Linked DNA regions of Homo sapiens: region 1 is linked to region 2. Evidence: fine-mapped expression QTL. A gene starts in region 2. The other region holds a variant in brackets. All regions are shown on one strand. Distances are from middle to middle.

Region 1 (15,490 bases), 21 kb before region 2:
ACGATTCACAAAGGAGCTTCTAGTCTGAGTTATAAGGTAGCCACAGTGCAGTCAGCTCAGGCATTGGCAGGAACTACTGGGGGGATGTCACCCAACAAATTCCACCTTCACCTTAAAAAGTAACTGTCCAGCTGGTCCTTGCCTTCCTGTCCAGACCCGGAGCAGTGGGGCCCATGCACCTGGCACCTGACTTGCTGCAGGGAACCACAACAGCGTGTTCCTGTTCTAGGAACTGGGAGAGGGGTGAAGGGTGGCTGTGGGCCCAGCTGGAATGCTGGCCTCAGTGGAGGAGGTGCAGAAATGCCTGGGCAAGGCCAGGGGCAGACCCTCCCATCAGCGGGGAAAGGCCCTTGGCAGGTGGCACCAGAGGGGGCCACATGGTAGTGTGCCCAAACAGGGGCCCAATAAAGTCTTTACTTCCCTAGCTCTCTTTCTTGAGAATACTTCCCTCTGTGTCATAATTGGAATGTGTGAGTCATGCTCTCAATCTCCGAAAACTCAGTGCTCTTGGTTTGTCTGAGTCCGCAGCAGGTGCTGCGGGGGAGGCTGCGGGAAGCTGAGGACTTGCAGCCACTGAGGCCAGAGCTTCCCTGGACAGCACCGAGGCATGAACGGCATTGCACCGAAGACAGGGCTGGGTGGGGAGAGGTATGGCTACAGAACACACCTGTTAACTACCGGTAGCTTTCTGGGGGCAGAATCTGTCTGTCTCAAGCCCCCCAGGATTGCAGCCACCTCTCCCATCGCAGTCCCGCCACTGCTTCTGCTGCCAGGCAGGGCCTGGAGATATGGCTCTTGGCCACCTTTAGTACACAAGGTGCAGGCAGGCCCTGATAATGAAGAGAATTAAGACAGTTTCTCTCCCACAGACACTCACAGCCTAGACGAGGAGATGAACCATCAACAAATAATTTAACAAAGATTTGGGAACAGAGTGGCAGAAGCTATTCCTCTGCCCAGGAACAAAGAATCATTCCTTTCTGTTTCCATGTGGGCTCCTGACACAGATACTCAACAAGCAGAGCCAACATGATTGATCTTACGCCCTGATTATGTGGCAAACATGTTTGCATTTTACGATTGTTCATTTTAATTCGTATTATCAGGTTTTGCTACCATGGCAGAACATAACGGTCTTAAACCCTGCATGTTAATCCCAGTTATCCAAGACTTCCCATGATACACTATAAAAATGTCTTTTTACCCCGCACATGCTTATGTCACTATCTTATATCTTATACAATGTGCCTTTCATTTCTAAAAGCAATTCATTCACATAAATGTTCCTGCAGATTGTTAAAGCCTTAGACTCTGGGACCAGGCATAATTGGAGAACGAATCAGATGTATGTTTCAAAGAAACAACCCCAACACATATCCAAACGACATTTAAGATTTCTTCCTATTTCACAGGAGATGACTTACGAGTGAACACTCACCCTTTTTTGGTATGTTAGTCTCATATTACCTTTTGCTATTAAACCAGGCATGGGTACACTTTCCAGGGCTGAGCTTTATTGCACATGAGCCCTGTGACTCAACTTTGCCATAACCAGGTATTTTGGGGGCTTTTAAAAGTATGAAGACATTGCTAAGATTAGTAAAAACAGAACCTTCAAAGTCATGAACACTGAAAGTACAGAAATAAATCATTTTAGCTTTTGATGGTTTGATGAAACTTTCTATTCACTGGCTTCCTAATTCATAAGCATCAAAGTAAAGGAAATTGTGGTGACATGATTTTGCAGTCATAATTTCTGAGCCTCAGAAATGCATTCAGCTGAATCGAATGTAGTATCTTTCTTTTAATTTGAAATGGGTAAAATACAGATCCACAGTTTAAGAATCAAATTCAGTTTAACAATTGGAAAGAACCTTTGAGAAACTGTGTTCCAAACACATTTTACAGGTGAATACTATCAGAATACAACCGGTTGAGGACCAGGCAGGCCCCTTAACTTCCCCAGGGCTCAGCTTCCTGATCTGTAAAGTTAGGGGCTGGGCTGTATGAACCCCTAAATCCCGTTTCACCTCAAACGTATTTCAGGATTCTAGTAAAAAGGTGCTGAATGAACGAAGCTAATCCCGAGAGAGACTTGGATTTGCCTGAGATCATGCAGTTAGTCAGGGACAGACACACATCCTCTGACTCCCGGCCATTGCTCTTTATAGAGAACAGGTTTAGAGTAAAGATCTTGAATTAAAAAAAAAATTACACAGAGATTAATGAACAGAACACCTTATAAAAAAAAAACAACACACAACTCTATATGAAAACCAAGTCACGCAAACTTCTGAGCAATATGTTTCAGTAACCTGCACTTTTAAATCATAGACTGGCAGCTATGATTTAAGCACCCTTAGACATCCAGCTTGTGTCCCTGGCATGACCAGGTATGCACTGGAGGAATGTCAGCCAGTGTACTGGCTTCTTCTGTTACATCATGAACTTCTCCAAAATGGAGAGACAACAATTCATTATACCATGATCTCTCATTATAGATTGAATTGTATCCCCCAAAACGACATGTTGAGGCCCTGACCTCCACTACTGTATCTGTGAAGGGGACCTTATTTGGAAATAGGGTCTTTGTGATGTAATCAAATTAAGATGAAGTCATTGGGGGGTGGGGGTGCTAATCCAGTATGACTGATGTCATTATAAGAAGAGGGAAATTTGGACACAGGGAGAAGACGGCCACATGAAGATTGAGGCAGAGATTGGAGTGATGCTGCCACAAACTAGGGAATGCCCGGGGCTACCAGAAGCTGCAACAGACGAAAAAAGGGTCCTCCCCTAGAGCCCTCAGAAAGAGCATGGTCCTGCCAACACCTTGATTTTAGACTGTTAGCCTTTAGAACTGTAACACAATGAAATCGTGCTGTTTTAAGCCACACAGCGTGATACCTTGTTATAGCAGCTCCAGCAAACAAATACACCTCTCATGTCTCTGTTGGGTTGACTGGGCTCACTGGAGTCCTTCTCACTCAGGGTACTGCAGAGAGTGGCTGGAGCTGGCATCACCTGAAGGCTCAACAGGGCTGCATCCAAGATGATGCACTCACATGGCTGCAGTTGATGCCGTCACTGGCTGGGGGCTCAGCTAGGGTGTGGACCAGCTCATGGCCTCTCTGTGGTGTGGAATTATCAAAGCATGGCAGTGTCACTCCAAAGAGGCAGGAAGTAGAGACTGCTGTGCCAGTAAGGCCCTGGCTGGGAATGGGTGTGGCATCTGTTCTGCTACCTTCTATTAGTCAAACCCATTAAGGAGGTGTAGCAAGGTGAATGCAGAAAAGCATGTGAGTTGGGAGAAAGTGCTGAGCCATGATTGGAACATACAATCCAGCTCAACAATGTTTAATAGGATAAGTGAATGTGAACCTACTAGAAATCATGTAATTCACTGTTAAGCCAAAATATTAGTGGATTTAGAAAGTTATTTGAGATATTCGGAGCCATTGCTTCCCTCTGTTCTTTTTTTTTTTTTTTTTTTTTTTTTTTTTTTGAGATGGAGTCTCACTCTGTCACCCAGGCTGGAGTGCAGTGGCACGATCTAGGCTCACTGCAAGCTCCGCCTCCCAAGCTCAAGCGACTCTCCTGCCTCAGCCTCCTGAGTAGCTGGGACTATAGGTGCATGCCACCATGCCCTGCTAATTTTTGTATTTTTAGCAGAGATGGGATTTCACCATGTTGGCCAGGCTGGTCTTAAACTCCTCACCCGCCTCTGCCTCCCAAAGTGCTGGGATTACAAGCCTGAGCCACCATGACCGGCCCCTCTGTTCATATTGATTAACAAGATTAGGTTGTAGAAAACATGATTCCTCAGGACAGTTACTGATATACTGGGACCCAGAAGAGCTACTGCAGCCCCCAAGGGTTCTATATGACAAGGAGGGCTTCTTCAAACCAGTTTTCCCCCCAGAATCTTCATCACCCCTGAATCACAGCTCAGGAGACTGGAAGAGATACTTCCTCTCCCTGCTTGGAATCATTTGTTACAACTGTTATACTATGTTCAGTGATCCCCTAGCTGATGGGGAAAGATTCTCCCTGAAGCACCTAGCAATTCCTTAGTCAGCATGCCTTTGTTAAATGCTTTCTGGGGGTCAGCATTGTGTTGGCTGTTGATGCCTGCAGTCTTGAGAGATGGAGCTGTGAAAACTTCTGTATTCCCCCTCTTTCTTTCTCCTTTCTGAACTGTAGGAGGTGTGGGAGCTCTGAGTCTTGGAGCCATTTGTGTCATGTCTCTGTCTTTAGATATTCTTTTTCCCACTGTGTGGGCCTGAGGAGGCCCCTGGAGGCTGCAGCAGTGAGGCTGGACCATCTTGGTTATCTGGTTCCCTTTCCTCTGACAGGGTAGGTGAGCTTTTTATGAGCTGGAAGGTCTCAGGTGGTGCTAGCACCTGCAAGGACCACCCTCTGGAAGACAGATTCCTGCTACCTGTTTGGGGGAGGATGTTTAGAAGAAAGAAAGGCTGCTTAGAAGGGTGCCAGAAACAGGTGCTTAGAAGAGAGAATGGTGCAGCAACCATTTGGAGAGGGCTGCTTTTGGGTTCTTGCTCTCCTTGTGGGGTGGGGGTGGGGGATTGTGAGGCTGTGGCTTTTTTTTGTTGTTGTTGTTATTTTTGAGCTGGAGTCTCACTCTGTCACCCAGGCTGGAGTGCAGTGGCATGATTTCGGCTCACTGCAACCTCCACCTTCCAGGTTCATGCAATTCTCCTGCCTTAGCCTCCTGAGTAGCTGGGATTACAGGTGCCTGCCACCCCGCCCGGCTAAATTTTGTATTTTTAGTAGAGACGGGGTTTCACCATGTTGGCCAGGCTGGCCTTGAACTCCTGACCTCAGGTGATCCGCCTGCCTCGGCCTCCCAAAGTGCTGGGATTACAGGTGTGAGCCACAGTGCCCAGCCGGGGCAGTGGCTTTCATATTGTACATGTTCAAGCCCTTGAAGACCTTTGGTGGCATCAGGGACCACCCAAAGGGAGGAGTGAGTTAAGAAGGGGGGGAAACTTTGGACCCCTTATTTAATTTTTTTTTAAACAGACTTTATGTTTTTAGAGCCTTTTTAGGTTCACAGCAAAATTCAGTAGAAAGTGGAAGCTTCCCATATACTCCCTGCCCTTTGCCCCACTCCCCCAGCCTCCTACACCATCAACATCTTGCATCAGAGCGGTGCGTTTGTTACGATTGATGAAGATACATCACATGTCATTATCACCCACAGGCCATAGGTTAATTAGGGAATACTCTTGGTTGAGTCATAATAGTAGTTTCACTGCCTCAAAAATCCTCTGGGCTCTGTCCCTGCCTCCTCCCAGATCCTGGCACCTGCTGATCTTTTCACCGTCTCCTTAGTTTTGCCTTTTCCCTCACCGCTTTTCGACCAGAGCTGATCTGTTTTCATGTTGGTCTTTTGTTTAAAAATTCATTCGAAGACTAAATTGTACTACTTAAAAAGAAAAAAAGGAATAAGGATACAAGTTATCAGGCAGTCCTATTCCTTGTTAGCTGTGTGATCCTGGGAAAATCACTTCACCTCTCTGAAAGTCAATATTTCATCCACAGAATGGGAGGAATGATGGCTGTCTCGCATCAATACTGTTAAATATGGAAAGTATCCGACAAGCACCTGGCGAATAGCAGAGGCTCAACAAGGACAGGTTTCCTCCCTCTGCTCATCCTGCTCCTTCTCCCATTCAGTCACTGAGTTCAGCCCGTTTCGTCTTTAGAGTTTAGAATTTCTCTCTTCTCATCCTCATCACAACTCCTTTCTGGTTCAGGCTTGATCTTATTCAGAGTGTCTACAAACAATGATTATCCCACACATCTGTGCTTAACGCTCACCTTTAATGCAACAAAATGTGTAGATATTGCTTGGCAATTTGGAGATGAGTGTAGGTAGATTCCTAGGGGTTGGCCGGTGAGTTCTGCTGGCTGTTCCCGAGTGCCGCTTTCTGGGGTCTTTTCCTTCACTCTGACAAACTGCCAGGGGACTTGGGTGGTTCCTGTAAGGGGCTTTCATGGTGGTGGCAGGCTATCCATTTAGAATTCCACTTCCCAAATTCCTTACACACCAAGCTATTACACTAGCTAGCACTAATCTCACAAGATACAGTGTAACAGCAAACAACCACACCACACACACATAAGACCTTAGCAGGGTAGCTTCCTGGATGGTGTCTCCTTAAATTCTCACCTTTGGGTGTCTTTTGAATAAGCCCTTCCAAATAAAAGGCCCTCATTCTGTCTCTCACTGGGACTGCTCTGTCATCTCCGGAGTGGTCTCTAGCCCTGCCCCCAATCCGGGATTTGAGAAATAGGTCCTAAGATGAGCAGAATTGGGTAACTGACTGGAAGCTGGAGATGAAAGAAAATGTGAGGGTGAGTCCAGGAAATTGTGGCAGTGTCACCAAGTAGAGCAGGGAACACAGGAGGACCCGCAGCCCACAGGTGTGGACCCCGGGCAGGCTGCCGGATATGTGCATATAAAGCTGAGTGAGTCCTTTGCGGGAGGCTTGTTTTGATCCACCTGATTTTCCCAGCCTACCTCTTTGGAGACATCTGTTTCCTCTTATTTCCAAGGTCTGGGGAGGGAGCAAATCATTCTCACCCCATGTGCTGTCTACAAGACAATTCTTGTATGGCTTGGCATTTAGTGTGATGCCTTATGCTTTGTGGTGCGATACATCTAGTGTGTAGAAACGTGAAATACTGGTTTATCCTTTAGCTGAACTGACTAGTTGTGTTTTGATACTGTGTATTCATGCATATTACAAATACACACACATGGCTGGGC[G/A]TGGTGGCTTATGCCTGTAATCCCAGCACTTTGGGAGGCCGAGGCAGGTGGATGGCTTGAGGTCAGGAGTTCAAGACCAGCCTGATCAATATGGCAAAATCCCTTCTCTACTAAAAATACAAAACTTAGCCAGGCATGGTGGTGCACGCCTATAGTCCCAGCTACTCAGGAGGCTGAGGCAGGAGACTCATTTGAACCCGGGAGGCTGAGGTTGCAGTGAGCCAAGATGGTGCCATTGTACTCCAGCCTGGGTGACAGAGCGAGACTGTCTCAAAAAAAAAAAGGAAAAAAAAAAAAAAGAGAGAGAAACAGAGGGTGAGAAAGAAAGAATGCTAAAGCCAGTGTGGTAAAATGTTAACAATGGGGAATCTGGGTGAAGGATATATGGGAATTCTTTGTACTATTTTGCCAACTTTTTTTCTCAGTCTATAACTTTTTCAAAATTGAAAAGTAAAACAAAAATTAGTTTAATATATGCTATAGGACCCTTTAAGGACTGAAACGGGGTGGTGGAGGTGGGGTGTGTGTGTGTGTGTGTGTGTTGGTGTTGGAAGTGGGTAGGGAGCACCAAAAACTTGATGGCATCAGCTGTAAGGAAACTGGTGATCACCCCACATAATCGCGGATAGTCACCTCAGCTGCTCAGTTGTTTTGAGAAACAATCTTTTTGCTTTTTCTAGATGCAAAGAGGTATAATTGAATAAGTCACAGCAGAAAATGAAAAGATGATCTGTTTTCTGTTACAGCGATTGTGAAATGCACATAGATCTCAGCCCAGAAGGAATCAATTTGACTAACGTAGATGTAAAATCAAAATTAATAGAACTATAATCCCTTTGGTGATCTGCATTTGTTCTGAATGATCTTATCAAACGTTCCTGGTGAGACAGGACACAATATGATTGCTAAGACACCAGGAGTGGGGAGGGCAATAAGTCAGATGGAGAGAAGATACTAGATGTCATGTGCTTCCCTTGCTTAGAGAAAATGGATGAAGTGAGATTGAGATACCAACTGTAGAGCCTGGACTGCCGAACCAGGATCCTGACCTTAGGAGCCCCTTCGTGATGTGAATACACCGGCTCAGACTCAGATGTGTCCAGAGCATGTGGTCCTGATTTGTATCAGGGCACTGGAGGCTTATGAATGATCCCCAGACTCAAAGGAAACAGAGCACCCTTAATTACTTAAGTCTTGTTAAAGTCCAGTACCATCTGCTCCAACAGGTAGGTTTCACCAGGAAGACAGTCAGGGAGGGTTGCTTATGCAACAAGTGTTTATTAAGTGCCTTCTATGTATAAGGCACAGTGCAGAACGATGGAAATAAAATGGAGAATAGGATCTATACCATCGGAGGACTCATAGGCTGGAGGCTTCTGACCAAGGAATTCCCATACAACCCAGTTTCTCCACGTGTAAAAGGGGAGACCTACCCCCCTCACATGCTAAACATGAGATTAAATGAACTGAGGCCAGGTGCGGTGGCTCAGGCCTGTGATCCCAGCACTTTGGGAGGCTGAGGTGGCCGGATCACCTGAGGTCAGGAGTTTGAGACCAGTATGGCCAACATGGTGAAACCCTGTCTTTACTAAAAATATAAAAAGTAGCCAGGCGTGGTGGCACATGCCTGTAGTCCCAGCTACTCAGGAGGCTGAGGCCCGAGAATTGCTTGAACCTGGGAGGCGGAGGTTGTAGTGAGCAGAGATTGCGCCACTGCACTCCAGCCTTGGCAACAGAGTGAGATGCCATCTCAAAAAAAATAAATGAATTAAAAAAAAAAGAATTGATATATGTAGAGCAAGCAGTAAACACTTGGCATATATCCAGTGCTCAGTAGTTGCTGGTTCCCCCTCTGTCTCTTCTCCAGGGTTCTCTCCTACCTGAGCCGTCTTTGGTTACTCTGAATCTTGCCCACTCTGGTCTGTCCCGTCAGGATAGTTCCACGGACCTAACTCTTGACCTTCTGCTGTTGTTTTAACCCAGATACCCTAAACAACGCCTGAACTTGTCCTTACAGTGCCTCCCACCCTTGTACTAAGACCTCTCACTATAGGGCTGACATTTATTTGGTTAGGAAAGCCATCTGGCTTTAAAATGTGCATATATCTGGGCTGCAACAGCGATTTCAATTTGTAGATTTCACCATGGTTGTTCTGTGAAGCAGTGTTCAGGTTTATTAATTTTATATGCATTGGAGTTTTTGAAATTGTTAGTTCGTATGTATGGAAATAAATTTTCATGAAACGAACCACAAGTTCTGTTATATAGGACGTCTTTAATACCACAGTAAAATAGCTTTTAGATTACTAGAATGTCAGGTTTCTGCTAAAAATTTGTGTCACAAAAGGGAAAAAAGAAAGCATGGATGAAATACAAAAAGAAAAAATAGATGTGAAGTTACTGTAGTTTTGATTATGTTTAGAGGGCAATTTTTACGGTTTTCCCAGGGACCCAGACCTTTCTCCATCCTACGAAGAAGGCCTGTAAAGGTTGGGGTGATTTATCTCAATTCCACTGGTGCTCAGGAGCAACCTAGGCCAGCTGGAGTCGAGCTAGAGGCTGAGCCAGAAGGAAATAAGAGGCCAAAGTAAGGGCTGCAATTGCAGGCAGCCTCCAACAAGCACCTGGTTAGGTAACTGGGCTCAGACGTGGAGGAAACAGGATCTCACAGCCTCCGGGTTGAAACCTTAGCCCAGACCGGCCCAAGATGGAACCCAGCTGAGGCTCTGCTTGCTAATGAGCCCTGCCTGCTCTGTGGACCAAGGGTGGAGGAATATTGATGTTTCAGCTTGATGGTTTTCACTGAAATCACATCAATGGCTGTCTGCCTGAGAAAAGGCAGTTTAGGGTGCTCTTTTCTCCTTGGAGTTAATTTTCCCATCTGCCCCAGGCCAGAAAGCCACGGGAGATATTTCATAGCTGCTTACAGAATGATTCAGGTCTTCACAAAATCAAAACTATTAATAGTACAAAGTACAGAATTCAGCAGAAAGCAAGAAAACGAGCCATGGAGAATGTCTGTTGTTAGAGAAGCAATGTGAAGAGTTGAACCAGAAGCTTAGATATTTAAAAAAGCACAAAGTTGCACGTGATACTGCTTTACTGGGACTGACAAGGAAATAAAATGGAAAAGCAAATTATCCTACTCCAGTCAAAAAAAAAATTATTTTCACATATTTCCCACAATTTTTGTTCTACTCCCTTTATATACTTTTCTCTCTGCCTAAGAATGAATTTTGAATCATCATTCTGCTGCCAGAAATTTGTCTCACATTACCAAGTGTGTTTGCAAAGTAAGGATACTGATTTCTGCAAATCACGCCTGAGAATCAATGTCATTATTTCATAATCAAAGTATGTACACTATCTGTTTAGCAGATATAATTAGAGACATTGGCAATCTCTGATTTTACTTGTCAGAATATGGAGTTTGGACTTATTTCAGAACTTTGCATTTTCAAAATAGTTTATACTTCTAAAAGTAATCTTACCTTATTTAATAACTTAATATTATCTGCTGCCCTGCCCCCATTTGATAACCCAAGTGAGATTATCACTAGATTGTCTCAGATTATAAATTCTTTGTCAGCAGGGATTAGACCCCTGCAGTTTCCTGTATATAATATTTTGCAATTAGATGTTTGATAGTGCTTTGAAATAGGAACTCAGTTTTTAACTTTTGGTCTTTTTATTTTCAACATAATGAACCATGAAATAGTGAAAATTCCATTTTTCTTGTTATACGATTTTAGGCATTGTCATTTTTTCCAGTTACAAGCTCAGTTACAGAGAGAAGGAATTATACTACCTCTTACAGAATCAGCAACCAACAGACTCACAACACAACCAACTGGAAAAAGCAGAACAACCCAGGAGCTGTATACTATGGAAGACCAGGTTGAAAGACTGGGCTGACTTTAGGTCGGCCTTCTTCATGTAGTCACCCACAGATGGGTTTTAGGAGCTCTGGACATCCCCCAAAATTCCTTGTTGGAAAATTTGGGGGTGAATTAGTGTCTGTTGCTTACTCAGATGCTCAAAGAAGCTCAGGTATCCCCACTTCCCTCAAAAAGGTAAAATCACAATTCTGTGTTTTCTGTTTTCCTGCTTCCATTAGATTGAGAAGGCAATGTGTTTAAGGGCAGCTAAGGCAACGTGCAGATGATGCTTGGGTACCTTAGAGTCATTTCCTCTCTTCTTTCTGCTAACAGAACCCTGACTTTGCTCAGGACAACAGTGTGCCCAGCCTGAGGAGATCATTCTTGATATTTGAAATCATGACAAGCTCATTCTCTTTCCTTGTAAATATCCCAGCTGCCCTTTAAGCTAGGACATGTGTTCCATGGACATGTGTTGCCTTTCTTGCCAATAAGATGCAGAGAAGTCTTCAGGGAGGCTTCTGGAGAGCTTCTGCTTTCTTGATACATGATAAAGTAGGGGCTGACTCAGTCCCTTCCCCTTCTTTCTGCCTTGAATTTGCATGTGATACTTGGAACTACAGCAGCCACCTTGCAACCATGAGTACACGCATGAGGATGATAAGCCAATATGCAAAATGAGAAGACAGAAAGAGCCTGAGTCTAATGAGTTTTTATGAAGCTGGCAGACCAATCCTGATATGGACTTTCTCTGAGTTTCTTGTTAAGTAAAGAGTAAACCATCCTTATGACTTAAGCTATAGTTAGTAGAGGGTTTCTGCTACTTGCAGTCAAATGTGGGCCTCAGTGGATACAGTGAATAATCTTTTATGGCTTAAAATACAATAAATTGATTCTGTTAAAAAGTACCACTAGATGATGTTTTTCAATGAATTCTGCGAACTATATTATTTTGCTAGTCTTCTAACTACGCCTGCAGGAAGTGCAAGGGAAAAATCAGGAGTGAATAGAGTGATCACCTGCGTTTAAATGGTATTCCTCCTGATATAAAAAAGAGTGGATTTTATCTTATTTTTGGTCTGTAATACTCAATGAATGGAAATAGTTATATAGGCAGAGACTACACCTCTACTTCCAACTGACATGGACATTGTTTCTATGCTTTTCTGCTCCAAAGATTTCTTTTTCTTTTTCTTTTTTTTTAAACTTTAATTTTAGATTCAGGGGTATAGGTGCAGGTTTGTTACATAGGTAAACTCGTGTCATAGGGGTTTCTGGTACAGATTATTTTATCACTCAGGTTAGTAACCAAACAAGCATTTATAACTTGATAAAATTCTTGTACTATTTCATCATATTGCCTGCATACAGGTATAAAAGAGCAACTCATTTATTAAGGTTTAAATTTTTTGGCCGGGCACGGTGGCTCACACCTGTAATCCCAGCACTTTTGGGGGTGAAGGTGGGTGGATCACTTGAGGTCAGGAGTTCTAGTCCAGCCTGGCCAACATGGTGGAACCCCATCTCTACCAAAAATACGAAAATTAGCCAGGCGTAGCAGTGCACGCCTATAGTCCCAGCTACTTGGGAGGCTAAGTCAGGAGAATCGCTTGAACCTGGGAGGCAGAGGTTGCAGCGAGCCGAGATCGTGCCATTGCACTCCTGCCTGGGCAACAGGGCAAGACTCTGTTTCAAAAAATAAAAATAAATAAATAAATAAATGTTTTTGTTTGCTCTCTATATATATGTTTTTTGAGACAGAGTCTCGCTCTGTTGCCCAGGCTGGAGTGCGGTGGCATGACCTCGGCTCACTGCAAGCTCCACCTCCAGGGTTCATGCCATTCTCCTGCCTCAGCCTCCCGAGTAGCTGGGACTACAGGCGCCCACCACCATGCCCGGCTAATTTTTTGTATTTTTAGTAGAGACGGGGTTTCATCGTGTTAGCCAGGGTGGTCTCAAGCTCCTGACCTTGTGATCTGCCCACCTCGGCCTCCCAAAGTGCTGGGATTACAGGTGTGAGCCACTGTGCTCAGCCAAAAAATTTAAACCTATGCCCAGCTGTTTGCATTATATTTTTTATGTGTTGTAAAAAAGCTGGCTGGGCATGGAGGCTCACATCTGTAATCCCAGCAGTTTGGGAGGCTGAGGTGGGAGGATCGTTTTAGGCCAGGAGTTTGAGACCAGCCTGGGCAACATAATGAGACCCTGTCTCTATGAGAAAAACAAAAGAAAAAAAAGAAAAAAAGCCTATTTGGACAAGTAAACCACTTGGAATTTTAAAATCAACTTCTATTGTATTCAAAGATAAACCATTTAAAAATATCAAGGAAGGAAAAAGCCACTGAATTAAGTTAGCATATTCTCCTCCAATAAATTTAATTATATGTATTTCTATAAATTTACATACTACTTCATATGCATTTATGTATATATTTGTGGATTATTACTTTCATTTTTTAGAGACTGCGGTCTTGCTATGTTGCCTAGGCTGGTCTCAAACTCCTGACCTCAAATGATCCTCCTGCCTCAGCCTCCCAATGTGCTGGGATTACAGACATGAGTGACTGTGGCCAGCCAGATTATTACTTTTTTTTAAAAACAGCTTTATCTACAGTATACCAAAGGTGACAGGGTTGGATATTTATCAGTTAGTACTGCTGTGTAACAAACCCCTCCAAAACTTAGTTTAAACAGCAAAGGTGTTATCACTTGTGACTGCAGGTCAGTTGGTCTAGCCTGGGCTTGACTGGGCATGACTCCACACTGAAGGTTGGTTCCAGGCCTGTCTCACTCTTCTTGGACCAGCAGGCTGGCTGGGACTTGTTTTTCTTATGGCAATGGCAGGGCTGTGAGAGGGTAAGAGGACAAGCCAAATGTGCAGATGCATTTCAAGCCTTTGCTTGTATCACGTCCCCTGACATGCCATTGGCTAAACTGAGTCATAGGGCCAAGCCCAGCATTCATAGTGTGAGGAAATAGACCTCACTGCCGGGCGGGAGGGACTGCAAAGTTACATGGCCATGTTCACAGGAAGATCCAAGGGACAACAGGTGAAAACTAGAATGCAGTGTGAGGGAAGAAACACTGGTAACAAAGGCCAGCTTCTGACATTGTTCCAGCTCAGTTTTTAGAAACTGACAGAGCTAAGAGTTAAAGAAACTATCTTAGGAAAGAGAGATGCCTGGTACTCCTGCCACAGAAGATAAAATTCTTCATACTGAACATGTTTAGGCAATGCTTAGAAGAATTACCTTGACAATGCTTTTAGAAAGATCACCATTCACTACTATTGTACTCATGTCCCTTTCTAGAGTGAGCCTAGTATTTCTATGTAATAAAGAAAATTGTTTTGTCATTGTTTTGCCTTTCTGTTATGCCAGAATTGTACAGATATTGTTTTTACAAAATCCATAATACATATATACATTTTTTTGGTGGAGTTTTTTGCTCTTGTTGCCCAGGCTGGAGTGCAATGGTGCGATATCGGCTCACCGTAACCTCGGACTCCCAGGTTCAAGCAATTCTCCTGCCTCAACCTCCCGAGTAGCTGGGATTACAGGCATGCACCACTGTGCCTGGCTAATTTTGTATTTTTAGCAGAGATGGGGTTTTTCCATGTTGGTCAGGCTGGTCTCGAACTCCTGACCTAAGGTGATCCACTCGCCTCAGCCTCCCAAAGCGCTGGGATTACAGGCGTGAGCCACTGCGCCCGGCCATATGTTAATGACCAATTTTTTTTTTTTTTGAGATGGAGTCTCGCTCTGTCACCCAAGCTGGAGTGCAGTGGCGCAGTCTCGGCTCACTACAACCTCTGCCTCCCGGGTTCAAGTGATTATCCTGCCTCAGGCTCCTGAGTAGCTGGGACTACAGGTGCCTGCCACCACACCTGGCTAATTTTTTGTGTTTTTAGTAGAGACGGGGTTTCACCATGTTAGCCAGGATTGTCTTCATCTCCTGACCTCAGGTGATCCGCCTGCATCGGCCTCCCAGAGTGCTGGGATTACAGGCGTGAGCCACTGTGCTCGGCCATGACCAATATTTTTAACAATTAGGAGCCAAAATAACAGCCATGTTCTTCACATGCAGTATTTCATATTAATCTTCACAGCAACTCTGTGAAGTAGGAATTATGTATTATTATGTTTTATATTATTTCTGTTTTACAGATGAATTGAATCTTAGGTTAAGTAACCCGCTAAAGATCACACTTAACAAACAGGATTTGAACATAGTTCATCTTGGGTGGGCTGGGTGGCTCATGCTTGTAAACCCAGCACTTTGGAGGCCCAGGCAGGAGGACTGCTTGACCCCAGGAGTTTGAGGCCAGCCTGGGCAACATAGCAAGACCTCACCTTTCTTTAAAAAAAAAAAAAAAAAGAAGATGAATTTTGATCATTTCATTTAGGATCAGGACCCACAAGCTTAACAGGACACACACTGCTTCTTGTATCCCCTATGTGAAAACAGTGCCCATGCTTTTGTTGTTCTAGTGCAATTTGGCACATGAAACCACAACCAAACTGAGACCATGAAATATACATGCTGTAAAATAAAATAAGTTACGCATCTCTGTTTCAGCATTTTGGGTGTCATATCACCCCTGTAGTCCCAGCTATTTGGGAGGCTGAGGTGGAAGGATCGCTTGAGCCCAGGAGTTTCAGGCTGCAGTGAGTTATGATCACATCACTGCACTCCAGCATGGGTGAGAGGGCCAGACCCTGCCTCTTAAAAAAACGAACAAACAAAAAATAAATCATTATTACAACTCTTTTTCAGTGTTGGAATACAGAAAATAGCCCATCTAGTTTGCTTTTGA
Region 2 (15,490 bases):
GGGGTAAAGGAGTTAACTGCCCCGCCAACCATGGAAGTGGGCTGCCGAAGGCCACCCAGCTCACTCTGGCCTTGGGAGCAGGTCTAGGTTGTCCCATCGCTGACCTGGCCAACTTCTTACCTTGGCATAGCTAACTACTCCTCTGCTCCAAATCCCACATCCCTTCCTTGCTTTCCTCTTGCTTGCTTTCTTGAGGAATCCTCTACGTCTCCATGACCTCCAACCCCCCATCTTTATTCCTGTAGCTGGGACTACAGGGCATAAAACAAAATAAGCACTAAGTAAATGTCTTTTGAATGAATAAATGAAGGGTCGTGTACAGCCCAGATTTTCCAATATTTTTGCAAACATTTTGAACTGTTTTACGTTTGTCTAATTATACTGTTTTTTTTGGGGGGGGGGGTAATGAGTTCTTTAAGCTAGTTACCAAGTCAAGTAATTCTCAACTGTTATCAGTAGACATTGCAGAGAATGCAAGAAGTGCTTTTTCATTGAAACACGCTGGAAATCAGTGAAAAAGAAACTGTGTTCATTTTATCCTGGTAGTATATATTTTCAGATAGTTTGAACACTTGATTCACTTCTTGACCTTTGCATTTTCAGCCTAAAGATCAATCCCTTGTCTTCATTTAACGGAATCTCTTTTCTTTTCCCTCCCTAACCCCTACCTCACTCTCTCTCTCTTCATCTTTTTAGGTGCAGTGATCAAACATGCTTGTAGTATTTACTTTTGTAGATACCTCCAATTTTTTTTTTTTTTGTTAAGTTTGATCATGGCTCACTGCAGCCTCAACCTCCTGGGCTCAAGTGATCCTCCCACCTCAGCCTCCCACGCAGCTGGTATTACAGGCACAACCCAGCATGCCCTGCTAATTTTTATATTTTTTGTACAGATGGGGTTTCACCATATTGCCCATGCTGGTCTCGAACTCCTAAGCTCAGGTGACCTACCCACCTCAGCCTCCCAAAGTGCTGGGATTACAGGTGCAAGCTACCATGCCTGGACTGTTAAGAAACTTAGATAAACAAGATCATAAGATAAATATTCTCTGTCTTCTTTCACTTAACACTATATTTATCAGATTCATTCACATTGTTGTATGTAGCTATAGATTCTCTGCATCATTGTAGGATATTCCATTATGTAAATTAACCACAATTTATTCATTCTACCTTTGATGGGCATTTGGATAGTTTCCAGTTTGCATTATGAACTTTTTTGTACATGTCGTTTGTTAAGTGTATATGCATACAAACATATACTTGCTAGAGCTACACCTAGAAGAATGGCTACGGTATGGAGTATTCCATATTTGTTCAAGTTTCACAGGTATTATCTCTTCTCAAATTTCCAAAGTGGCTGTACCAACTTGCACTTCTATTAGCAGTGCATAAAAATTTTCACTGCTTCATATCCTTACCTACACTTGGTATCTTCTGTATTTTTTCATTTTAGCCATTGGGTAGGTATATAGTGGTATTCCATTATGGTTTTATTTGCATGTCTCTGATAACTAATGAAACTGGGCACCTTTTTATATGCTTATTGGACATCTGTATATCCACTTTTTTAGGTGCCAGTTTATTAAGGGTATCTCCCTTTTGGCCATTTCCTAACATTTTCTTTTTCAAATCGTCTTGTGGTTTATATGATCTGTATGACAAGTGTTTTGTTAGGGAAGTGTATTGTGAATTTCCCCTATTCTTTGGCCTGCCGTTTGAATATCCTAATGGTGTCTTTTGACAAACAGAAGTCTTAAATTTAATATAGATCAATATATGAACAATTGATCAATATACGATCAATTGATCAATATACCACTTATTTCCTTTATGGTGAGCACTTTTTTTTTTTTTTTTTGAGACAGAGTCTTGTCCTGTTGCCCATGCTGGAGTGCATGGCACGATCTTGGCTCACTGCAACCTCTGCCTCCCGGGTTCAAGAGATTCTCGTACTTCAGCCTCCCGAGTAGCTGGGATTACAGGTGCCCACCACCACGCCCAGCTAATTTTTGTATTTTTAGTAGAGACGAGGTTTCACCATGTTGGACAGGCTGGTCTTGAACTCACGACTGCAGGCAATCCACCCGCCTTGGCCTCCCAAAGTGCTAAGACTGTAGGCGTGAGCCACTGCACCCGGCCGTTTATGGTGAGCACATTTTTGATTCTGTTTAAGAACTTTTTGACTATTCCAAAATCATTCTGTTTTCTTTTACATTTAGACCAGCAACTCATCTGGTTTGAGGCAGGGGTCAAGATTTCCCCTCCCCACCCCGTAAGGATAGCCAGTTGACCCAAAACCAATTATTGAAAAGATGATCCTTTCCCAACTGCACTGAAAAGCCACCTTTGTTATAAACCATATAGGTATGAGTCTGTTTCTGGACTCTTTGTTTCCCATTGGTCTATTTGTTGACCTTTGGGGCAGTATCACTGTCTTAATTACAACAGCTTTAAAAAGCTAGGTTTTGGCCGGGCATGGTGGCTCACGCCTATAATCCCAGCACTTTGAGAGGCTGAGGCGGGCAGATCACCTGAGGTCAGGAGTTCGAGACCAGCCTGGCCAACATGGTGAAACCCCATCTCTACTAAAAATACAAAAATTAGCCAGGCATGGTGGCAGGCACCTGTAATCCCAGCTATTTGGGAGGCTGAGGCAGGAGAAACGCTTGAATCCAGGAGGCGGAGGCTGCAGTGAGCCAGGACCATGCCATTGCACTCCAGCCTGTCCAACAAGAGTGAAACTCCATTTCAAAAAAAATAAAAAGTAAAATAAACAGCCAGGTTTTGATATTTGGTAGTAAAGTTGCCCAGTTTCATTCTTCTTTAATTCTCTTGGCTCTTTTCGGCCTTTTGCATTTTGCATGTATTTTAGAATCAACTTGTCAATTTCTACACACAACACAGATGCAAACGCACTCACAAATCCTGCTGGGATTTTAATTGGCATCATGTTGAATCTGTGCATCTTCCAAATCATAAAAATGACATTCCCTCTATTTAGGGCTTTAAAAAAGTTTTCCTCAATATTGTTTTGTAATGCTTTGTGCATAGGTCTTACACATCTTTCATCAGATGACTAGATATTTGATATTTTCCCAAAGGTAAATGGTATATATCACTTTAAAAGTTTAATTTCCTCTTTATTGTTATACACAGAAATGGACTTTTTTGTAAACTAAGTTTGTATCCAGTGACCTTGTTAACTTCACTCATTAATTCTAATACTTGATGATTACTTATACAATTGTGCGGTTTTGTTTCCATGTCTTATCCTTTCCTAAAACCATTTTTTTTTTTTGAGGCAGTCTTGTTCTCTTGCCCAGGCTAGAGTTCACTGGCGTGATCCCAGCTCATTGCAACCTCTGCTGCCCAGGTTCAAGCAATTCTCGTACCTCAGCCTCTCGAGTAACTAGGACCATAGGCATGCGCCATCACACCTGGCTAATTTTTGTGTTTTTAGTAGAGATGGTGTCTCACCATGTTGCCCAGGCTGGTCTCGAATTCCTGAGCTCAGGCAATCAGCCCACCTCAGCCTCCCAAAGTGCTGGGATTACAGGTGTGAGCCACCACGCCTGGACTTTAAAAAAAAAAAAAAGATGGGGTCATGTTGTTGCCCAAACTGGAGGGTAGTGGCTATTCACAGGCATAATCCCACTAGCAGTGATCAGCACAGGAGTTTTAACCTGGTCCATTTCCAACCTGGGTCGATTCACCCCTCCTTAGGCAACCTCGTGGTCTCTAGTTCCTGGAAGTTCACCATACTGATGCTCAACTTGGTGCAGACACCTGATCAACACAGCCCACTACAGCCCAGCACTCCTGGGCTCAAGTGATCCTCTATGTCCTCTCTTTGTACAGTATTTTTTAGTCTTTATTGAGCTTCTCCTTTGTTACAGCCCAGAATAGTGGTAAGTTCTTTGCTTCCCCAAATCCTCAACAGTCTTTTACAAGACAGGTGTCCCATCTGGAAAATGATACTCTGCCCAGGGGTTGTTTGTAACCATATTTTGGCCAAGTACTCCTCAGTTTCACACTTGAATTTGTTTAAAACAGCCAGGGAATTTCTAGATAGTCTAAAGGCTTTTATCTATTTTAGTCTACTTATTTTGTTTGATCAAATTTCTTTCTTAAACGTCTTAAAATGGTAACATCTTGATCAGTTTAGCTGAAACTCTGTTTGGGAAAGTGAGTAATACAATATGGCTGGAACTTAGGGTGGTGGAGCTATGAGATAAAGCTGAAATAGCAGCTTGTTACAGCCAGAGGAAGGGATACAGGAGCTGGGAGGTCACGATCTCCTCATTATGTGATTTTGGGGATAACATCCCATTCTTTTTGTGGCCATATCCTATTAGAAGCAAGTCAATAGGTCTAGCCCACAACAAGGGAGAAGATTACACAAGGCAGTGAATACCAGGAGGTGGTATTAATAATACGGGAGCATTGGCCAGGTATGTTGGTTCACGCCTGTAATCCCAGCACTTTGGGAGGCCGAGGCGGGCAGATCACCTGAGGTCAGGAGTTCGAGACCAGCCTGGCCAACATGGTGAAACCCCATCTCTACTAAAAGTACAAAAATTAGCCAAGCATGGTGGCGCGCACCTGTAATCCCCGCTACTCGGGAGGCTGAGGCAGAACCGCTTGAGCCCAGGAGATGGAGGGTGCAGTGAGCCAAGATTGTGCCACCGTACTCCAGCCTGGCCAACAGAGCGAGACTCTCTCTCAAAAAAACAAAAAAATAAAAATAAAAACAAAGCCAAAAAGGAGCATTTTAGAGGCTGGCTACCACACCTTCCTTGGGTTTTCTAGAGGTGACTCTTTCAAGCTGGTTCCGAAAAGGATCAGGTTAATTTCAATCACAACCAAAAATTATGTTATCTTTATGAAGGTTTCTCGACATGCCACACATCTCCTGACCCCAGCCTGGGGTGTGTTCCAGGCTGCAGTATAATGCCACTCTGGCTCTTCATGAGAGCTCATCCCTTCTCAGGCTTCTTGTATTGAGAACTGATACTTCTTACATGCAATCTTTCTTGTATCCTATATCCAATCTGTCAGGAAATTCTGTTGCTTATACCTTCAAAATATATCCAGACTCCACTTCCCACCAGCTCACTGCTACCACTTTGGTCTGAGCCACAATCATTTCTTGCCTGGCTTATTACAACGGACTCATCACTGTCCTCTCTGATTTGGCCCCGGCTCCGCTTCAGGATCCTTTCAACACAGGAGCTAGAATGATCTTGTTTAAATGATCAAATCGCCTTTCCACTCAAAATCCTCTCATTTTATAAAAGATAAAGACCTAACTATGGTCCACAAGGAGCTGAAAAATCTGCTTGTGCCGCCTCCATTCTTCAACATCATTTCCCACTTTTCTTCCCCTTCCTGTGCCAGAGCACATCAGCCACGCTTCTGCCTCAGGCCCAGGCACTGACTGGCCCTTCTCTCTGCCTAGAACAGTCTTCTCTCAGTAAATGCTCCCTCAGCTCCTTCAAGTTTTTCTTCATATGTCACCTTCAAAATGAGGGCTTCCTTAACCAAGTGGCTTTTAAAAAATTATTTTATTCCCAGGCTGGAGTGCTGTGGTCCCATCTCACTGCAACCTCCGCCTCCCAGCCTCAAGCGATCCTCCCACCTCAGCCTCCAGAGTAGCTGGGACTATAGGCACCATGACCGGCTAAGTTTGGTATTTTTGGAAGAGATGAGGTTTCGCTATGTTGCTCAGGCTGATCTAGAACTTGTGAACTCAAGTAATCCTCCCATCTCGGTCCCCAAAGTGCTGGGATTACAGGCGTGAACCACCACATCCAGCCCCAAGCTGTTTTAAAATTACAGCAATTGCACCCAATACTCCCCTCTTCCCATGCCTTATTTTTATCACCACCTCATGTTCGGTATAATCATCATTCACAGAGTAAGCACTCCATAAATGAGTGCTGTATAATATGTGGGAAGTAAATCCCATTTTTGGGGTTGAAAGGGAGGTTCTGAGAAGTGAAGGGATGGAAAGGGAAGTTTGCTGGCTGACAGCCTTAACTTTGCACTCCATCTTCTCCAGTTCCCCCAGGACAACCCTGAGAATCAGCTATGTGCCGGGCACGCTAGGCCCTGGGGTTACAACTTTGGGGCTTAACTGTTTTTCGTTTCATCTTTTAACTTTAATACCAAATCTTTGTTGTTCACACAGAACAATCTTTACAGAAATGAAAAAGCTTGGTGACCCTCAACCTCCATATCCACCTTTGTGTTTAGCCTGGCTTTCTGCTTCATCTAGGCCCCTTGAGTAACTGGCATTCACACACACACTTGCTTATATGTTTACTATTCATTACACACATTAAAAATTTTTTTTCCCATTGAAATAGTCATAGAGGTCTGTTAAATAGGCCTGTATATTTTCTTGCTTTCCTGGGTTAGACATCTTCAGACAGTTTTTCTTTTGGTAGCAAAAGCAAAATACTTCTTCCCCCTCCTAACTTTGCTGTATTTGTCATATACGGAAAGGAGTCGCGAGACATCATGAACCCCACATACAATGAAGTCCTTCTGGAATATTTTCAAATTATCCCCTTTTTCTGCCATTACTGTGGCCTAAACTACCTTGCTTAAATGGACAATGTCATCATTGAATCAAGAAAATACTGTGATCCACTGGCATCCCTTTTCACCTTAGCCTTCATATCATATTTATATTAAATGTCTGTTATATATATTTAGTATCATCCCACCTAGCTCTTTAATGGTTAGAGTCCAACCTACACACTCTTCCCAGTGGGAATGGCTGCTCTATAAAGTTCTTTGTACGTGTTTTTTTTTTTTCCTAACATTCACTTGGTGCCAATAATTATATTTTGTCCAATCACTTTTTTTTTTTTTTAAAGAGATAGGGTCTCACTCTGTTGCTCAGGCTGGAGCACAGTGATGTGATCATAGCTCACGGTAACCTTGGGATCCTGAGCTCAAGCAGACCCCTCACCTCAGCCTCAGGGGCAGGTGGGACCATAGGTACTTCTGTGCCACCACACTCAGTTATTTTTTAAATTTCTTGTAGAGATAGGGTCTTGCTATGTTGCCCAGGCTGGTCTCGGAGCTTCCCACCTCGACTTCTGAAAGTACTGGGGTTACAGGTGTGAACCACTAAGTCTGGCCTGGAATATCTTGATCCATCCATTCCTTGATTCTAAACGTCTAGCAATTTACATGACATTTCACACCATGTTGCAGAGTTATATACTGCTTTGATTTGCTTTATGGTAGTCTCTAATTTCGTTGATCTTCCTCTTAAAAATGCCTTGTTTTAATATTTAGTATTACAGGACTGATAAGTTCAGTAATTTGATAAGCAACTTAGGGATAAGTAGTTAATTTCTGAGGTTTAAATTGCTGGTTTTAAAAAATTGTAAATTGGTGGCCTAGACAGATGCATTTTATCTTGGAGAATGAATGTATTCGTGACTGGAAGTAATGGCAGCTATAATTCGTTACGTTATTTTACAGTCACATCTCAGCTGCATAACCTATTTACTTTTTGCAGTGTTATCACTGATTCACAAGACAATTTTGCTTTTATCTGGGCACATGATTGCTTGTTTCTCCTTATCTTTTAGCTTCCCTTTATATATACTTTCCAACATTGGAGTGATTCAGAATATATGTGAGGAATGGGATGGTGATTTAGGAAAGGCGGGAAAATTATGGGCTAAATCATCTGATGAAAAATTCTGGCCCAGCGCAGTGGCTCACGCCTGTAATCCCAGCACTTTGGGAGGCCGAGACGGGCGGATCACAAAGTCAGGAGATCGAGACCATCCTGGCTAACACGGTGAAACCCCGTCTCTACTAAAAACACAAAAAATTAGTCGGGTGTGGTGGCAGGCACCTGTGGTCCCCAGCTACTCGGGAGGCTGAGGCAGGAGAATGGTGTGAACCCGGGAGGCGGGGCTTGCAGTGAGCTGAGATGGTGCCACTGCACTCCAGCCTGGGCGACAGTGTGAGACTCCGTTTCTTAAAAAAAAAAAAAAAAAAAAAATTCTGGCTAGTTATTAAATTCATTAAAAATATTTCTTCAGATTTTTACCCCAACAGTTCATAGGTGACCTTTTTTCAGTTTCCAGTATGAACTCTCAATATGGAATCTCAGTTTACATGACAATGGTATTTTACCCCATAGATACATCCTAGTAAAAATAAATTCGGAATACTCTTAACTGCATTGCCACATGAAGCAATAGGAGAGACTGTATCCTAAGCAGAATCCCTCTAATTCCTCTGGGTTGAGGTAGCTTGACCCCCCATAACCAAGATCAATTTTTTTTTTTTTTTTGAGATGGAGTCTCGCTCTGTCGCCCAGGCTGGAGTGCAGTGGCGTGATCTCGGCTCACTGCAAGCTCCGCCTCCCGGGTTCACGCCATTCTCCTGCCTCAGCCTCCCGAGTAGCTGGGACTACAGGCGCCCGCCACCACGCCCGGCTAATTTTTTGTATTTTTAGTAGAGACGGGGTTTCACCGTTATTAGCCAGGATGGTCTCGATCTCCTGACCTTATGATCCGCCCGCCTCGGCCTCCCAAAGTGCTGGGATTACAGGCGTGAGCCACCGCGCCTTGCAAATATCCTCACACTTTGCAGAGGCGGCAAGTGAACAGTGCTCATCTTGATAAAGGATTTTTAACACTGACACGTGCTTAGAACTACGAACAGTGGAAGGGTCTGAAATGGCAGCAATGTCGCCCTTTCACAGGTTTCTAGGGCGATAAGCACTGCAAGCTCGGCCAGCCAAAGTCCAGCGGTGGGGGAAAAAACGGCCAAGGCAGCAGCAGACATAATCAAACAGGGCCCGGGTCGGCGGCGGTGGCTCACGCCTGTAATCCCAGCACTTTGGGAGGCCGAGGCGGGCGGATCACCAGAAGTCGGGAGTTCGAGACCAGCCTGACCAAGACCCGTCTCTACTAAAAATAGAAAATTAGCCGGGCGTGGTGGCGCATGCCTGTAATCCAGCTACTCGGGAGGCTGAGGCATGAGAATCGCTTGAACCCGGAAGGCGGAGGTTGCGGTGAGTCGAGATCGCGCCATTGCACTCCAGCCTGGACAACCAGAGCGAAACTCCGTCTCAGGAGAAAAAAAAAAAAGTAGTAACGGGTCCGGCGGCAGCGCGCGGGCCGGGCGAGCGTCTCCCGGCAAACGCGGCGCCACAGCTGAGCCGACCTCCGGGGCCCGCGCCCTCCCCTCCCCGGGCACCACTAGGAGCGGCCAGCCCGGGCCTCGGCTCCGCGCGCGGGGAAACGAGCGCGGCGGTTAAAACCGTTACCACCCCCGAGTTTTGAACTGGTTCAAACTTGGCTTCCAGCACCCGCCCCGCCCCTCCCCCGCCCGGGAACTCTGCGGCGCCGGTTCCCGCCAAGAGCCGCCGGCGCTTCGTCCCGCCCTTCGGCCGGTTCCCGCCACCTATCCTCCCCGCCTCCCGTCCGCGGCGGGCTCCGGGCCCCCGCGATGTCTCCCGGTCCCCGCGTGCCTGCACACCGCCTTCCTGAGAGGCGCCGTGTGTTCAGCGAAAGAACAAAGAGACGGCGGCGGCGCTTCCACACGGCCAGTGGCGTCCCTTACAGCGAACCCCGCCGCCGCCCGCGCGCGCACGCGCTGCCAGTGCCCGCCCGCCCACGAGCCCTGAGCGCACTCTGCGTGGGGCTGGCTCGGCGCCTCCGAGCCCGGCGGGCCCTGTGATTGGACGGGCGCCCGCCTCGCGTCCCGCCAATCGGGGCGGCGCTTGATTGGGCTGGGGGGGCCAAATAAAAGCGATGGCGATTGGGCTGCCGCGTTTGGCGCTCGGTCCGGTCGCGTCCGACACCCGGTGGGACTCAGAAGGCAGTGGAGCCCCGGCGGCGGCGGCGGCGGCGCGCGGGGGCGACGCGCGGGAACAACGCGAGTCGGCGCGCGGGACGAAGGTAACGCGCCGCTGCGGGCGGCCCGGCCGGCGGGGCTCCGGGAGTGCGAACCGGGCGGCGGCGGCGGCGCCAGGACCTCCCCGCCACTGCTGTGCCGGTCCCGGGTATCGCCGAGCGGGGCTCACCGGGGCGCCGCGTTTGTAGGCGTGCGGGGGGTGGAGGGTGAGGGGAGAGCCCCCCTCCCCGGAAGGAGCTGTGAGCTTCGGGCTGGCCCGCGGGACCCTGCGAGTGAGGCAGCGCACACCCCTGGAGCTGCGGGGCGGGGGGCGTGTGGGGGGCTCCTTTCCCGGTGCTTGTCCTGGCCGGGGCGCCGGGGCCGGGGTCGGGGCGTTCCGGTGCCCGGTCCAGGGTGGCAGCTCGAGCCTCAAGTCTCCTTTGTGTGGCGCGGCCGCGGCGGGAGCGCCCGGGTGGGACGGGACAGACACAAGTTGGTGGGACCCAGCCGCCGAGTCCGCACTCAGACAAAGGACGGACTGTGTCTCCGGAGGGCTCGGCGCGAGGGGAAGGGGCATGACACCCGGGCCCGCCGGCGGGCGGGAGAGGGGCGTGGGGAGGCGCGGGCCGCTGCCGGGGTGGGCAGGGCTCGGCCCTCGCCTCGCGCACGCCCCCGGTCCCGGGCGCGCCGACCCCGGGCTGGGGCCGCGGCGCTCGCGGGACGACGTTCGCGGCGGGGAACTCGGAGTAGCTTCGCCTCTGACGTTTCCCCACGACGCACCCCGAAATCCCCCTGAGCTCCGGCGGTCGCGGGCTGCCCTCGCCGCCTGGTCTGGCTTTATGCTAAGTTTGAGGGAAGAGTCGAGCTGCTCTGCTCTCTATTGATTGTGTTTCTGGAGGGCGTCCTGTTGAATTCCCACTTCATTGTGTACATCCCCTTCCGTTCCCCCCAAAAATCTGTGCCACAGGGTTACTTTTTGAAAGCGGGAGGAATCGAGAAGCACGATCTTTTGGAAAACTTGGTGAACGCCTAGTGAGTTGCCACTTTCTAAAGAATCGTAATCCTTAAACATTACAAGCTGTTTTGGCCAACTTGTGTGATACATCTGAGAATGGCGACAGGTGCTAACGAAATCAACTGTCATTCAGCCAGATTATTCCCCAAATCCCGACGGGTTGAATGAGGATGAGGTGGTAGAAGTAGGTGATCAAAATAGAATGGCTATGACAAATGTGTGTTTAGATTATACGGTTAGCAGTTTCTTATTAATTGGTCTCGTTTTCTGTGAACAATAGCTTTGGTGATTCAGAAAAGACTGCATGGAGAAATGTTTGTTGCCTAAGAAATTTAACGTGTGCTGTCCACAGTTAAACTTCCTTTATCACACAGGATCTGTAACATTTAAATTCATTTGGAAATAAAAATGTGTCTTTGCTATTTACTTAAAGGCTTGCTTTTTAGGGTTCAAGCAAGTTATTATTAGTTTAATTTTGTGGCGTTTTGATGTCATCATAAAACAGCATTTAATAAACCTTTGAAAAACACGAATGCTGTCACAATTGAATGTAGTTTATACTTTTAGGGGTTTTGGAGTTTATTTTCTATTACTCTTCATAAGCATTAGCAACTAATTCATGTTTAGGAATACTGTACAAGTGTGTAATCCTAACTTGTTTATTTGTAATTTTATTTGCAGGAAAACAAGTATTTAAGATATATTTTAATTTTCTATTCATGGTCTCTAAAGTTAGGAATAGGTAGGATTCTAGTCATAGATATAAAGCGTCTTGTTCTCTCTTTTCGGAGGTGTGTTGGGTGATGTAATATTTAAGGTTTCCCGGAAACAGGAACACTGCATCTTAAATTCTCGTTTTTGTGGAAAGTGAATATATTCCAAGAAAACAAGTTAGAAAAACATAGGCGTTCTTCTGGTTGCACTGTCCTATATGATAAAGATCTAATGTGCATCTGCTAACTTAAGGTTTCATAAAAATGGAGACAAATAAATGCAATATAAATTTATTACATATATTTTGGAGAGTGTTGACACCACTGTACGGGCATTCCAGGTGCTGGTCTAAGTGTTGAGACATTATAACAAAAAAGTAACGTTTATATTAGTTACTATTAATTCTGTATTTAAAAAATCCTATTAATAATCTTGTCCATTATGAGATAAGGTAGTTATGCAGATTTTTGGCAGAAATTCGGATATTTTAGGATACATATGTGTGTGTGTGTGTGTGTGTGTGTGTGCGCGCGCGTGTGTGTGTGTGTATATGTTTTTTTTTTTTTGAGACAGAGCCTTGCTCTGTCGTCCAGGCTGGAGTGCAGTGGCTGGATCTGGGCTCACTACAATCTCTGCCTCCCGGGTTTAAGGAATTCCCCTGCCTCAGCCTCCCGAGTAGCTGGAACTACAGGCACGCACCACGACACCCGGCTAATTTTTGTATTTTTAGCAGAGACAGGGTTTCACCATGTTGGCCAGGCTGGTCTCGAACTCCTGACCTGAAGTGATGTACCCGCCTCCGCCTCCCAAAATGCTGATCCAGACGTGAGCCACCACGCCCAGCCTAGGATAAAAATTTCTAACTTTGCCCTTGAGTGTTCTCTGTATTTGATAATTACTATTCTTTGTACTTGCCATGAGATATTTTGAAAAACATCTCTTTGGGGAATTGGTTTAAAAATTCATATTAAATTATTTTCTGGTACAATTGAGAATGTATTTAGTCAGTTTAAGTAGCAGTGACTTAAAACACACTTGTTGATCTAGTGTAGTTAGAAAAAGTTCTGATACTTTGATACCTAGCTTTGCCTTGCACAAATACATTTAAGTGAATATCTTTATGTTGGCCATTTAAAAATTTTAGGCAAATTTCTCCAAGTCATACTGGAATTTTCCCAGGATACCTTCCTTCTTTTGAGGTAGTGTGCTCAAGGATTCTGAATTTATTTCAGTATTACCCTTTACATGAGCAGTGATTGAGAAAGTTGATCTGCTTTTTAAAAACCAACAAGGACAAATCCTCCAATATAATGTATTCTGTGGTTAATTAGCAATGATTTATGGATTAGCCTTGAAGTCTTTATATCAGTATAGATGACAAATTTTCTGTAAATCATGATAGATTCTATATGAGTAGGTGAAATCTTCGGGGGAGAGCATAAGTGAACAGCAGCAATTCATTAAATTCAGAGAAAGGTTCATGGTCAGATGATACATACTTTACCTTCTGGAGGTCTTCCCTGAATTCCCACTCTTGTGTTCCCACAGGGTTTTATCATATTTTATTGTAGCATGACTCAATTGTATTGTAATCACTTGTTTATGCATCCCTCTCTTCCCTACAGTCAAAGTGCCTCCTGGTAGAGGCTCTGTCTTATTTTTTTCTTTGTATACCTAGTACCTACGTTGGTATTTGCTAGAGAATAGGGGTTTTAAATATAGTTGAATGAATTAAGGAAATATGAAAAATGTAGGGAAATAATTTGACAAAGGAACTTGCAAAGTGAACAGGATATGTTAGTATTCATGTGAGGAACTTTGAAATGTGTTTTTCTCCCTCTTTAATAGGGAATGATTACAAAGAAAAATAGTTGTCAAGGTGAACAAGTTCCAAGTTTTTCCTAGTTATAATCTGTAGTACTAAACATTAGATATCCTTTAGATGCAACTATTACACTCGGACAACTGGAGAGAACTTGATGAATCATCTGGATATTTAGTAATAGTATTTGCTTAATTTGATTTAATGTTGATATTGATGATCTCTTTGCAAAAATATAAGGAAGGGAAAGGGCGAGAGAGGGTAGTAGATCTTTTAACTGAAAAGCTGTTTTGTTATAATTCATGAGTTCTTTATTGGAGTAAATTGAGGTAGGTTTTGGAGCTAAAACTGAAGGATGTAGCGACAGTGTAATTGGATCATTTATTGGGATGCTTTTCATCATTCTTTTAAAATGATTTAAATACAGATTAGCAAATTTAGTGATACCTCAAAAGTTACAGCTGGTAAATTTCTAAGATAGTTGCACCATTCCATATCTTGCCACTGTTCCACTACTTGGTATAAAAATATGACAAATTTGTGTTTAGATTATGTGGTTAGCAGTTTCTTAATAATTGGTCTTGTTTTCCATTAACAATAGCAAGACAGAACAAGATCATAGCTCACTGCATCCTTAAACTCCTGGGCTCAAGGGATCCTCCTGTCTCAGCCTCCTGAGTAACTGGTATTACCAGTGCACACCATTGTGGTGACTTATTTAATTTTTTAATTTTTTGTAGAGATGGGATCCTGCTTTGTTGCCCACGTTGATCTCAAACTCCTGGCTCCAGGCAATCCTCCTGCCTTGGCCTCTTAAAGTACAGGGATGACAGGCTGAGCCATTGTGTTTGACCCAGATACTTTTTTTTTTTGAGACGGAGTCTCGAAAGTGATTCTTGTGCCTCAGCCTCCTGAGTAGCTGGGACTACAAGCGTGCGCCACCACGCTCGGCTAATTTATTTATTTATTATTTATTATTTATTTTTTTGAGATGCAGTGTCACTCTGTCACCTAGACTGGAGTGCAGTGGCACCATCTTGGCTCACTGCAACCTCCACCTCCTGGGTTCAAATGATTCTCCTGCCTCACCTCTCAAGTAGTTGGGATTACAGGCATGCACCACCAGGCCTGGCTAATTTTTGTATTTTTAGTAGTGATGGGATTTCACCATGTTGGCCAGGCTGGTCTCGAACTCCCGACCTCAGGTGATCCACCTGCCCTGGCCTCCCAAAGTACTAGGATTACAGGCGTCAGTCACTGTGCCCAGCCTCCGATAATTTTTATATTTTAGTAGAAACTGGGTTTCACTGTGTTGGCCAGGCTGGTCTGGAACTCCTGACCTCAAGTGATTGACCTGCCTCGTCCTCCCAAAGTGGTGGGATTATAGGTGTGAGCCACCACACCCTGCTGTGTTGTTTTTGTTTTTGTTTTTTGTTTTTGTTTTTGTTTTTTGATATGGAGTCTCACACTTGTTGCCCAGGCTGGAGTGCAGTGGCGTGATCTCGGCTCACTGCAACCTCTGCCTCCTGGGTTCAAGCGATTCTCCTACCTCAGCCTCCCGAGTAGCTGGGATTACGGGAACGCACCACCACACCTGGCTAATTTTTGTATTTTTAGTTGAGATGGGGTTTCACCACGTTGGCCAAGCTAGTCTCGAACTGCTGACCTCAGATGATCCGCCTGCCTCGGCCTCCCAAAGTGCTGGGATTACAGGCGTGAGCTACTGCGCACGCCTGGCCTGGATACTTTTTAAACATTTTTAAATTAAAAATTTTTTTTTGGAGACAGGGTCTTGTTGTCACCCAGGCTGGAGTGCAGATGCGTGATCTCAGTTCACTGCAACCTCTGCCTCCTGGGCTCAAGCGATCCTTCCATCTCAGCCTCCCAAGTAGCTGGGACTACAAGTGCATGCCACCACGCCTGGCTAATTTTTGTATTTTTTGTAGAGACAGGGTTTTGCCATGTTGCCCAGGCTGGTCTTGAACTCCTGAACTCAAGAGATCCACCTACCTCAGCCTCCCAAAGTGCTGGGATTATAGGTGTGACCCACTGCACCCAGC

Alleles and levels. Alleles are on the strand shown, and positions count from the first base shown. SD is a standard deviation of normalised expression in the study named.
With allele G in place of A in region 1, the expression in esophagus mucosa of the gene that starts at base 9,817 in region 2 is higher (small effect, 0.22 SD a copy in GTEx).

The links. PIP is the estimated chance that this variant, and not a neighbour inherited with it, causes the effect.
Region 1: its variant is fine-mapped to the expression of EZH2 in esophagus mucosa (GTEx, PIP above 0.99). The same link has a PIP of 0.9 or more in sun-exposed skin.

The regions. Positions count from the first base shown.
Region 1 is chr7:148,899,456-148,914,945 of GRCh38, reverse strand. No RefSeq gene overlaps it. Among named protein-coding and RNA genes, the nearest start is that of EZH2, 23 kb to the right of the region's middle. The variant G/A (reference allele first, on the strand shown) is at 6,797.
Region 2 is chr7:148,878,618-148,894,107 of GRCh38, reverse strand. EZH2 (enhancer of zeste 2 polycomb repressive complex 2 subunit) reads left to right here and starts at 9,817. Exons shown (of 20, transcript NM_004456.5): 1 at 9,817-9,944. It overlaps LOC124901767 (a long non-coding RNA gene), which reads right to left and starts at 8,919. Exons shown (of 2, transcript XR_007060579.1): 1 at 8,625-8,919; 2 at 6,312-7,751. It also overlaps the pseudogene RN7SL569P. RefSeq lists silencers at 9,184-9,413, 9,534-9,903, 10,064-10,653 and an enhancer at 9,872-10,563.